Linked DNA regions of Homo sapiens. The protein of the gene in region 3 interacts with the protein of the main gene of each other region in a biochemical or structural test. Each region holds a gene or a part of one and is shown on either strand. Other genes may lie near its edges. The genes, in order: CRHR1, RPS6KA1 and GOPC.

Region 1 (3,748 bases), on a different chromosome or scaffold from region 3:
GGGACACTGGGGCTCAAAAGGACTGGTGTGCCAGCCTCACTCAGAGGGAGGCACTAAAAGGCAGAGAAAGAAGGGGCAGCCTCAGGGGGGTGCCAGGACTGTGCCAGCCCCCACCCTTTGGAGGCCATATCCACCCTCCCCTCCTGAAGTGTCACTGGGCCTCAACTCTGCCCCAACATCCTCTCTCTCTCGCGTGCTCTCTCTCTCTCCTCCAAAAAGCAAATATTTGGAAGGGGACTTTGACATCTTCTTTCTAGTTCAGATGTTTATATCTCTTTGAGTCACAGACCCCTTTGAGAATCTAATGAAAGCCGTGGGCCCATTTCCCCATTAAAATGCATGTATACACCAATATTTTCATTACATTCAGGGTCTCTGTGAACTGTTGAAGTTTCCAGTGGGCTGAGATTAAGAATTTCTGATCTGGTTCAACCACTTGATTTTATTATAGATGAAGACAAGACACTAAGGCCCAGAGAGGGCAAGTGACTTGCCTATGATCTCACAGCAAATTAGTGGCACAGCCCATTCTGAAGCAGTGGGCCCAGACTCCCAGTTCAGTGTGTCCTTTCCACTCCCCCAGATGGTGTCTCCCTCCCTTTCCTCTCCATAGCTCACTTCTCCATCAGTCCTGTCCTAGGGCCCTGCACAGAACAAAGTACACGTGACGTATGGTCAGTAAGTGTGGTTAACAGGCCAGCCGGAAGAAGGAACAGGCCAGCCGGAAGGAGGGCCAACTTCATTTAGCTGATTCTTCCCTGCAGGGCCAGGGTAGATGTGGTTTGATTGCAGAGACGTGAGGGGCTAGGTCAATGATTGGATGGGTCTGTTCCAGGGTGTTCCTGTGATGTCTCAGAGCTCCAGGCTGTCACCATGCGAGGGACCAAGAGAAGTGTCCTTAGGCTACAGAGCAGGGGACCAGAAGCATGCCCAGGCTTCCTCTAAATGCCAGGACCTTAGCTTTTAACACCACCTCCAGCCATCTCTCTTCCTCCTCTGCTCTGGAACCCATGCTGGCTCCCTAGTACCATAGCATCAGATTCAGATTTCTTCCCCTTGTGTCTTCTTTGCATAGGATGAGCTCATTTCTGCACTGGTCATTGTTGTCATCCTGTCCCTAGCTGGTGTGAGTGGGAACGAGTGGGGAGGTGGGCAGAACTCTGGAATGTCCTCTGCCTGCCTGGGGCCTTGGCCGGATATCTTGCTGTGCCTTACCAGCCGTCTCTGCCCCCAGGACTGCAGTGCAACGCATCCGTGGACCTCATTGGCACCTGCTGGCCCCGCAGCCCTGCGGGGCAGCTAGTGGTTCGGCCCTGCCCTGCCTTTTTCTATGGTGTCCGCTACAATACCACAAGTAAGGAAGAAGTGGAGGGTGGACCATCTGCTGGGAGGTGGGACAGGATGGGGAGAGCTTGGAGGTGGGGGAAGGAAGAATGACGATGACAATAACAGTAATACCTCTTGTGGGGATCGCCCCTGTTTTCCAAAGGTCAGCGCTGTATTCTCCTGGGTGCCCTGTGCTCATTACTCGTGATTCTCACAATACCCTTGCAAGACACTATCACGCCTCCTATAACTAAGGCCCCTGGGGCTCAGGGAGGTTAGGGAACTTGCCCCATTGGCAGCTGGTAAGGGGTGAAGCTGGAATTTGCATCCACGTCTGTCTGGCACTTTCTTCTGCCATTAAACTTCAGGTTAGTCTGTTTGAGCCTACTGTAATACCATGAAGCAGGGCAGGAATCATCAGAGCCCCAGCTGTGTGGATAAGAACCTTGAGTCGAGAGGTTCTGAGGCCTACCCCGGGCCCTCCAGCCAGGAGGCAGGGGACCCAGAGTTTCAGATGCACAGGCACAGGCTCAACTTGCATCCTGGATTTGTAGGTGGAGTGGGGCAGGACGGGGTTGACCCAGGGTCCGTCGGATACTTGATCCTCATGTAAACACCTGGCTCCCCGGAGGCCCGAAACCCCCAGAGCCGGGCTTTGCAGCTCCCTGCTATTCCGCCTGCCACTCTCAGAATTAATTTGCTCTCCCCTGTCAATGAGTCAGGTCCCTGCTTATCAAGAGAGCAACAGCTGTGGGCCAGGAGCCCTAACCTACCTGAGGGGAGGCTGGGGGCCTGATCCCTGCAATTGGGGCCTCCTGTGTGCACCCTTGGGTCCTTGTGGTCTTGAACTCAGAGTCCCAAGAGGGCACAGGGGTGAGCCCAGACACCATGTAGTTTACTCCAAGACTCACTGTGTGACCTCCCAGCACATTGTTGCCCCTCATCTGGCCCTCAGCCCCTCATCTGAGGATGGAGAGGGCTGGATGGCTTGGCTTCTAAGATGTCTTCCAGCTCAAAACTCCCAGATTCCTTCTCCTGCCCCTCTTTCCTCTACCAGATGGATTTGGGGTGTTAAGGTTGGGGGCTACAGCAGAGGAGTAGGAAGACCCAGCCAGAAAGTGACTCCCCAGGGAGTGACTTGGGAGGCCAGGGCAGGGCAGGAGGCTGGGGCAGCCAGATCTAGCAGCCTCGTGTGTCTGTACCATGTCCTGGCCATGGGAGGGACTCGGGAGAGGGAGAAGACACACTGGGAGGGGCTTGGGGGCCAAGGGGAGGAAGTGCAGAAAGGAAGAAGGGCCTCTTGGCCAGGTCAGTCCAAGGGGTGCACAGTTGGCCAGCCCCCAATATAGTCAGGCCCATTTTGTAATAAGGAAATTGAGGCACAGAGAGGCTAATAACCTATCGGAGGTCGCAGAGCCTGGAGGCAGGGTCACAGCCCAGGGACGATAACTCTCACGATGCTGGGGGCTGAGTCCTTCTGGAGCCCCTAGGAAGGAGGCAGCATCTGCACATCAGAGGAGCTTCCAGGAGGAGGCACCAGTTCCTGTCATGTCCACTTCCAGAGTGATCCTCGTGTCTGGGCCTACCTGCCCCCACTCCCCAGCGCCACCGCCCAGCCTCAGGTTTCAGATCTGAGTTGGTCACTCCTTCACTTGGAACCCACTCTTGTGTGGCCTCCGTGTTCAGGCTGCTGGGTGGGGCCGGCCAGGCTGTCTGTGGTCATGGCCCTGTCACCTTTTGCAGCCAGCCCTGGCCACCCCCCATGAGTTCCCTCTGCTCCCGTTGCAAAGGGTTACTTGACATGCTCCAGATAAACATTTTCAGCCCTCAGTGCCTGGGCACACACTTCACTTGCTGGCCCTGCCTGAAGTGGCAGTCAGGAGTCCTAAGTTCTCATTCCAGCTGCATCTGCAGCTGGTTAAGTAGCCCTTGGCACAGACCTTCTGTGGGCCTCAGTTTCTACACCTGCAGAATGGGTGGGAGGATTGAGTGTGGTGCTCTCTAGGCTCCCCCGCACTTCCCTCTGTGATCCCAGGAAAGGAGCTGGGGTGATGGCCTCTCGACATGGGGTCAGTCTGTGAGGGCAGGGCTGGAAGACCCCTTTCCAGGTGCCTCCAGCGCCAGATGAGGTGGAGCACGCCCGTGCAGTCAGTCACAAGTGGGTACCCAGAGCTGCACCTCATCATTAAGCACTAATTAATCCATTTACTGATGAGTTGCTGCCAGGACTTCTAGGCCTTCTCCCTAATGCCCTCCCTCCTGCTGCATCTGATCTTCAAAGGGATGGGAAGCATTTCCAAAAATATCTATTTTCCCGTGATTCTTTGGGAGGACTGCTCAGCTCAGCAATTAAAGACAAGGAGGTCGCATCCTCCCTGGCAACGGCTCCCTGCTTGTTGGGCCTGCTTTCTTTCGGATCACC
Region 2 (3,748 bases), on a different chromosome or scaffold from region 3:
GCCCAGCTTCTCCAGACGCTGCCCTGGGCCCCTCTTTCTAAGACAGAGTTGCTTGGGTGGGAAGGAATGATGCCAGTTGGAACCCATTTCTGACATCTCAGAACTGGGGGCAGTGGTCTGGGGCCCTGGGCATCTGTCCTCATGAGCAGTGCTCTCTGAGGAAGAGGGAGGAGTGTGGGTCTTCAACCTCTAAGAGGCCAAAGGACTCCTAAGACAAAGTCCTTCATTCAGTACTCTGCAAGGTCAGCACCATTGTCCCCATTCAGTCATTTATTTAGCACTTAGGTGATAAGTACTATTTCAGACAACAAAGTGCAGATGTCAGCAAGACACACCTGCCCTCGTGATACAGATGAGGAAACTGAGACTTTATTACTATTATTATTTTTTGAGACATAGTCTTGCTCTGTCACCAGGCTGGAGTGCAGTGGCGTGATCTCGGCTCACTGCAACCTCCACCTCCCGGGTTCAAGTGATTCTCCTGCTTCAGCCTCCTGAGTAGCTGGGACTACAGGCCCGTGTCACCATGCCCAGCTAATTTTTGTATTTTTAGTAGAGTCAGGTTTTCACCATGTTGACCAGGATGGTCTCGATCTCTTGACCTCGTGATCCTCGTGATCTGTGAGGCCTCTTGGCCTCAGCCTCCCAAAGTGCTGGGATTACAGACATGAGCCACTGCGCCTGGCCGAAACTGAGACTTCAAAAAGTGATATGAGGCCACGCGTGGTGGCTCATGACTGTAATCCTAGCACTTTGGGAGCCTGAGGCGGGTGGATCACCTGAGGTCAGGAGTTTGAGACCAGCTGGGCCAACATGGCGAAACCCCGCCTCTACTAAAAATACAAAAATTAGCCAGGTGTGGTGGTGCGGCCTATATTCCCAGCTACTTGGGAGGCTGAGGCAGAAGAATTGCTTGAACCCAGCGGGGCAGAGGTTGCAGTGAGCTGAGATTGCGCCGCTGCACTCCAGCCTGGGCAAAAGAGTGAAACTGTCTCAAAAAATAAATAAAAATAAAAATAAAAAGTGATATGACAGACCCAAGGGCAGAATAAGTGGCTGGCAGAGCTAGGATTAGTGGCTGTATCTTTGTGGCTGCACAGCTGTGTTCTTTCAAGGATTGCTATGCAGCAGTCAGGCCAGAGGGGCAGATGACCCCGGACCCAGGACCCAGGCTCTGAGTGGGAAGCCAGCACCCCACAACCCCCCTGACCCCCCTACCAGTCTGTTCTCCAGGGCTGCCTGTTCCCTTACTCTTACAGGTTTGGCGTTCCATAAGAATGACACCCAAGCCAGAGATCCAGGGAGTAGAGGCAGCCAGACTGCCTTAGAGCGGGGGGTCCCTAAGTCATCCAGGCCACTGCTCAAGAAACCCACACCTCTAGGTACACCTACCCCTTCCTCCCCACCCTCAGTAGGCTTGCAGCCACGTGACTTTGGGTTATGGTCACATGTCTGCCACCTGCCTGCTGAGGGACCTCGGTGAGTCCCTTAACTCTCCTGAGCCTCATCTGAAAAATAGGAGTAATAGAACCTGCTCTGGCCTCCTTGCTGTCTTTGCTGGGTTGAACTTTCACTGGATAAACCACATGCTGGACTCTGGCTGGGTGCCAAGATGTTGATGATGGACAAGCCATGGCCCCTTCCCGAGTTAACCTGCAGCATGCTTAGGTTATGGGGGTAGAGAGGAGGGAGGAAAGAACATGAGGCTGTGTGGACAGGGGTGACATTTGAATTCAGTCCTGATAAAAGATCAGGAGTTTGCCAAAGTGACAAGGCAGGAAAGGCTTTCTTGGTAGAGGGAGCCACCATACAAATGCTGGGGATATAAAATAGACTGTTTTCAGGGTCTGTGGTTGTTCAGTTTAGCTCAAAAATAGGGCCCAATGATAAGAATGGCTATTGTTTGTAGGCCAGTTACATGTCAGGTGTATATATTTATAGGCATTATTTCATTTGCTTCTTGCCGCCACCATTGAGGTATGTTACTTTGATCCGCATTTCACAGATGAGGAAACTGAAGCCCCAGTAAATGAACTAACCTTCTAGGGGTCACGCAGGTGGTAGAAGCCAGAATTTGAACCCACAAGGTCAGGTTGCAAAACCTACATTCCTAGTTATTGTGCTGGGCAGTTGAAGATGATGGCCTTGATTTCTATGCTAAGGAGCTGGGACTTGATTCTACAGGCAGTGGAAGCCACAGAGGGGTTTGGGGCCTGGTACATAGAAGGTTCTCAGCAAATGTTGACTGAGTGAGTTGAGTGCAGCAGTTGCACTTGATTTTAGGAATGATGAGGGTTTGGAGTGGGGAAGGCTGTGGGGCAGGGAGCTGGTGGGTAGGCTGTTCTGATCATCTGCAGGAATTATGTCAAGAGTCTAGAATGCTGGGTGAAGTGGAGCTCAGTCTACAAAAGCATCCCTACCACAGCCCAGCCCCTGGGCCCTGACCAACCCATCCCTTCTCCCCAGGCTGCTGAGAGATGACAGTGTGTGTATGGATGTGTGCATGGAGGGGCCTGTAGAACATTTGGCCCCTGGGGAGAGATTAGGGGCATTAAAGGGGCTCAGGGGGCAGGATGTCCTGGGAGTGGCAATGGGGAGCTGTTCCAGGGGCAGGGAGATTATGTAATGGGTAGAGCACAGCTGTGCCTACCCAGCTGTAGCCAAGCAGGGCTACAGCTGCCCCATGGACCCAGCTCCTGGCTCCAAAGTCCAGATCCAGACCTGTTCTAGAGCAGGCCTTCCTAGCTGTTGGGAACCTCCTGTCTGCCTCACCACACTCTCCCTGTTCTAGGAGGGGTGGGGCAATTTCTTTCAGCTTCCAAACGCCCAGATAGGGTAGGTTACTTGCCTCACATCACACAGGAAACAGATGGGCTGGGTTTGACACACCCCAGCATATTTAATAACCACCTGAGAGTGAAGTCTGGGGGCTGGAAAAGGCAAGACTGACCAGAGGGGGGCTCTGGGCTCTGGGCTGTTTCTCAGCTGACCTGTTTGGAGCACCTCCTGGATTTGGGACCAGATTTTGAATCCCCACTCACCAGTTGTGTGACCATAGGCATCATCACTAGGTCCCCTCAGAGCCTCAGTTTCCTTCTCTGCCACATGGGGCCAGGGCCTACCTCCCAGGGCTGTCATGAGGATTAAATGGTGCCACAGGGGCCAGGCGCAGTGGCTCACACCTGTAATCCCAGCACTTTGGGAGGCCGAGGCGGGCGGATCACCTGAGGTCAGGAGTTTGAGACCAGCCTGGCCAACGTGGTGAAACCCCGTGTCTACTAAAAAAAATACAAAAATTAGCCGGGCATGGTGGCGTACGCCTGTAATCCCAGCTACTTGGGAGGCTGAGGCAGGAGAATCGCTTGAACCTGGGAGGCGGAGGTTGCAGTGAGCTGCGATTGCACTACTGCACTCCAGCCTCAGCAACAGAGCAAAACTCTGTCTAAAAAAAAAAAAAAAAAAAAAAAAAGTGGTGCCACAGGTGCGAGGCACTGAGCCCAGTGCCTGCCATGTGGCAGAGGCTTGGAAGAGAGCAGCTGTTAGCCCCAAGCCCTCGTCTCTGCCCTCGTGGGACTCCCCATTTATTAGGAAGGGCAGGCCTGTGTGTAAATAGTCCCTGCAGTGGGACAAGTGCTACAATGAAGGCTGAAGTGGAGGCAGCAGTCATTCTGCCTGGCAAGGTCAGGGGAGGGGTCCCAGAGTGGGGCAGGGCAAGGATAGCCACCATCTCTGGGTTGCATGCTTTCCC
Region 3 (3,748 bases):
CTAACCAGTCTGCCATGCAGTACAAAGACTGCAATAATAAAATTGTGATTTCTTGCTCCTCAGTTGCCTTGCATCAGCGAAGGGCACACAATGCAGGCTTTGGGTTGTGATTAACCGTAAGGGTCTGCCCCAAGAACAGATAACAGCAGACTGCACTCAGCTAAATATGCTTCTAGGTAATGCAGGAGTTTCCACCAGCCTACTCTAATCACACAGGTTTCTCTTTCCCTTTCTAGGACTGTCTACCCTTGAACTGGAAGTAGGCAGAATGTAAAGAGAGGAGTTGCTGGATACTTTTAAAGGCACTGAAAAATTCAAGTTAAAGTTATAGTTGAGGGGTAGTAGCCTCACTAGCCTATCTTGAGTAAGGGTCATGTCTCATTCATTTTTGTGTCTTCAATGTCGCAACAGAGCTCTGCATTCAATATATTTGTAAATATATGAATTCACAATTTTGATTTTCTGAAATGTCACGTGTGAGGACACTACCAGTTTTCAAATAAATACACCTTTTAAAGTACAGTTATGTGCCAAATAACAAGGCTTCAGCAATGAATGGATCGCATAAACTATGGTGATCCTATAAGAGTATATGACTGTACCTTTTCTATGTTTAGATATGTTTAAGTACACAAATAGTTACCACTGTGTTATAATCGCCTACCGTATCCAGAATGGCAACATGCTGTACAGGTTTACAGCCTAAGAGCAATAGGCTACATCATATAGCCTGGGTGTGTAGTAGGCTATACTATCTAGGTTTGTGTTTAAATACACTCTAGGATGTTCCCTAAGGGATGATTAACCTAAGGACACATTCCTAAGAACATATCCCCATCTTAAGTGAAGCACTACTGTAGTTGCTTTTGAAATGTGTGACCTATGGTGTATTAAGAGGAATACCGTGTGCCAAGAAGTGACGCTAAGCGTTTTACCTTACAACTGAGTTAAGTAAAATTTGGAAACTTGGTTTCGAGGTTAATACATGAAAGGCGACACAGGTAGTATGTGACAGAGGGTAAGAATTGAATCCAGGTCTACCTGACTCTTAATCACAAGACAAAAAGTCTTCTATTAATTCCGCAAAATCTGGTCAGCCGCTTCAATGCGCAGCTTTAGGCAGTCCACACCTGGAATTTGGGGTCTGGTTTACCAAGAACAGCCAGTGTGTACACCCACTCCATCCTATCCAGGAACTGGAATCGAGAAGGTAAAAACGTGGCTATTGCGCATGCTCACACCGCCCTTCCTTGCTCTCCCCTCCCTGACCCTAGATGCCACCGCAGCAACTTTCTGGGAGGATTTTGGAACGGCTCCCGCCAACTGTTAAGTCAAACCGGCGGAAATCCTTCCTTTCTGCGACGTGGACACCTTTCTCATCCTCGGGCCTTTCCAACCAGGGTGCAGAAACCACGCGCCTCCGTTTCTCAGGGATTCAAGCCGTAGTTTGCCAGTTGTTAATATGGCCGCTGACAGGCCGCTCCCAAGCTGAGGCCTTTCATAGGCCAAGATCGCATCCTGTCCCCGCCTATTTTGTCCCTCGTGGCTGCGTCCGCCCAGCTCTTCGCTACGCATGCGCAGCGGGGGCAGGCTGGGAGGTGGGACTGACTGAGTCTTCCGTGTGTCGCCGCCGTTGCCGCCTCAGCTTCAGCCTCGTTACTCCTGCGGTTCTGTGACTGTGCTGCTGGCGTTAACGGCGCGAGGTGAAGGGAGGTGACGGAGTGTGCCCGCGCGCGCGGGGGTCCCCTCAGTCCCAGCAGTTCCCTTCGTGCGCGGGGGGCGGCGAGGGTCTTCAGCAGTCGGGAGAGGCCCTTGACGGCGCCATGTCGGCGGGCGGTCCATGCCCAGCAGCAGCCGGAGGGGGCCCAGGGGGCGCCTCCTGCTCCGTGGGGGCCCCTGGCGGGGTATCCATGTTCCGGTGGCTGGAGGTGCTGGAGAAGGAGTTCGACAAAGCTTTTGTGGATGTGGATCTGCTCCTGGGAGAGATCGATCCAGACCAAGCGGACATCACTTATGAGGGGCGACAGAAGATGACCAGCCTGAGCTCCTGCTTTGCACAGCTTTGCCACAAAGCCCAGTCTGTGTCTCAAATCAACCACAAGCTGGAGGTGAGCCGTGGGTGCTGGCGGCTATGGCATCCAACCCCAGGCTGCCCGGTGGCGTCAGATGCCATTTAACGCTCCAGTGAAACGACCCTAGAAAACTGCCCACCGGGGCTTCAAATGTGATGGGAGAGTGCATGTCTGAGGAGTGAGGTGAGGGTGGGGGACAAAAAGGGCCCTAGACCGACGTGTGAGTTCCCGGGGTACTGTCGTCCACCTTCCTAGTATCTCTCTGAGGAGGAAACTAATTACATACACCAGCCTCCATTGCACATGTTACATTAACAAACCTAACAAAGATTCTCTGTCATGAAAATACCGTAGGCCACCTTTTGACAACTGAGTTTTGCAGATCTGCTTTCACATTGATAAACCGAATTTGTATATGTTAAGACAGATACAGCACTGATTATTTTCATTTTAATTATTCCAGGTCAGCGCCTATGATTGCATACAGAGACATGCATAAACTATTTAGGGGAATCTGATCAAAGCTCTTAGGAAAATTTCGTGGTGCATAACGATAGTATCACTGTCTCGGTTTACATCCATAGTTGGTTGTTAAATTACAGGCAGATACCTCCAGAGAGCTCCCTGCAATTATTGAAATTACTTCTGACCTTGAGTTTTTATATGCTTGTACATTACTGTGTAATTTTCCAAAGTCTGGATTTATTTTTGAGAGAGTGTAAAGAATCATTTGCTTTAATCTCTGATCCTGGGTGTGGGTGAGGGTGGAGTGGCTGTGGTTCAAAAAAACAAAAATATCATATTGTGCAGAAAATTTAAAAAGGACATTATTAAAATATTTAGAAATCAAGATAGATTAACATTATTGCATAAAGAGTACTTTCTAACTAGGCAATTTAAGAGAATGGGTCTTTCTTTTCAAAAAGTGTAATAGATAAAAATGGGATAATCAGTGATGTGCAAAACTCTGAACATGCTTTCCTAAGAAATCATCATTACTCGTTGTCATTGACAGTGCCCATTATATCTATATCAATATGAATGTCAGTTAAACATCCTCTCCTTGCCTAGTGGTCAGCATTCTTTCTCTCCTATTAGCCATGAAATATGTGGCATAATTAATCTTTGATTAACATAGATTTACATATCCAAGAATTGTGGCTCTTCTCCACTGCGAGAACTGTTAATTTCTTCTATCCTTTTTGAAAAGATTAGAAAGTGCTAATATGAAGGTAATCACTTCTTACTGTAGGTAAATGAAAACATCTCTTGATTTCTTTATTGGTAGTAATTTCCACAAGAAAGCTATTTTTCTCAGATAGTGAAATTGCATTTAATGTTTTCTAGAAATAGTACTTTAACTTTATTTCATCTTATTTTATCTTATTATATTTTTTTCAAAAAAGAGATGGAGTGCTTTGTTGCCCAGTTTGGTCTTGAATTCCTGGCCTCAGGTGATCCTCCTGCCTTGGCCTCCCAAAGTGCTTTGATTACAGACATGAGCTACTGTGCCTGGCCATTAGTTCTCTAGCTTTAAACAACAAAGATCAAGAGTAGCCTTTACCACATGGTATAATTCGAATGTGTCCCCCAAATTTCGTGTATGGGAAACTTAATCCTCAATGTGACAGTATTGAATCTCCAATGTGGGGCCTTTAAGAGGAGACTGGATCATG

What was found.
Region 1: the proteins of GOPC (region 3) and CRHR1 form a complex in vitro, tested with the Homo sapiens proteins (2 studies listed by BioGRID and IntAct, with this or other methods).
Region 2: the proteins of GOPC (region 3) and RPS6KA1 interact in a test that uses a peptide from one of them, tested with the Homo sapiens proteins (2 studies listed by BioGRID and IntAct, with this or other methods).

Annotation. Positions count from the first base shown.
Region 1 is NC_000017.11:45,815,229-45,818,976, forward strand, and holds part of CRHR1 (corticotropin-releasing factor receptor 1 isoform 2 precursor), read left to right. Parts: intron 1-1,234; coding exon 1,235-1,354; intron 1,355-3,748. Other genes in the region: LINC02210-CRHR1 (CRHR1-IT1-CRHR1 protein), read left to right, coding at 1,331-1,354.
Region 2 is NC_000001.11:26,532,709-26,536,456, forward strand, and holds part of RPS6KA1 (ribosomal protein S6 kinase alpha-1), read left to right. Parts: intron 1-3,748. UniProt on the Homo sapiens protein: Serine/threonine-protein kinase that acts downstream of ERK (MAPK1/ERK2 and MAPK3/ERK1) signaling and mediates mitogenic and stress-induced activation of the transcription factors CREB1, ETV1/ER81 and NR4A1/NUR77, regulates translation through RPS6 and EIF4B phosphorylation, and mediates cellular proliferation, survival, and differentiation by modulating mTOR signaling and repressing pro-apoptotic function of BAD and DAPK1.
Region 3 is NC_000006.12:117,600,364-117,604,111, reverse strand, and holds the start of GOPC (Golgi-associated PDZ and coiled-coil motif-containing protein), read left to right. Parts: upstream 1-1,600; 5' UTR 1,601-1,823; coding exon 1,824-2,108; intron 2,109-3,748.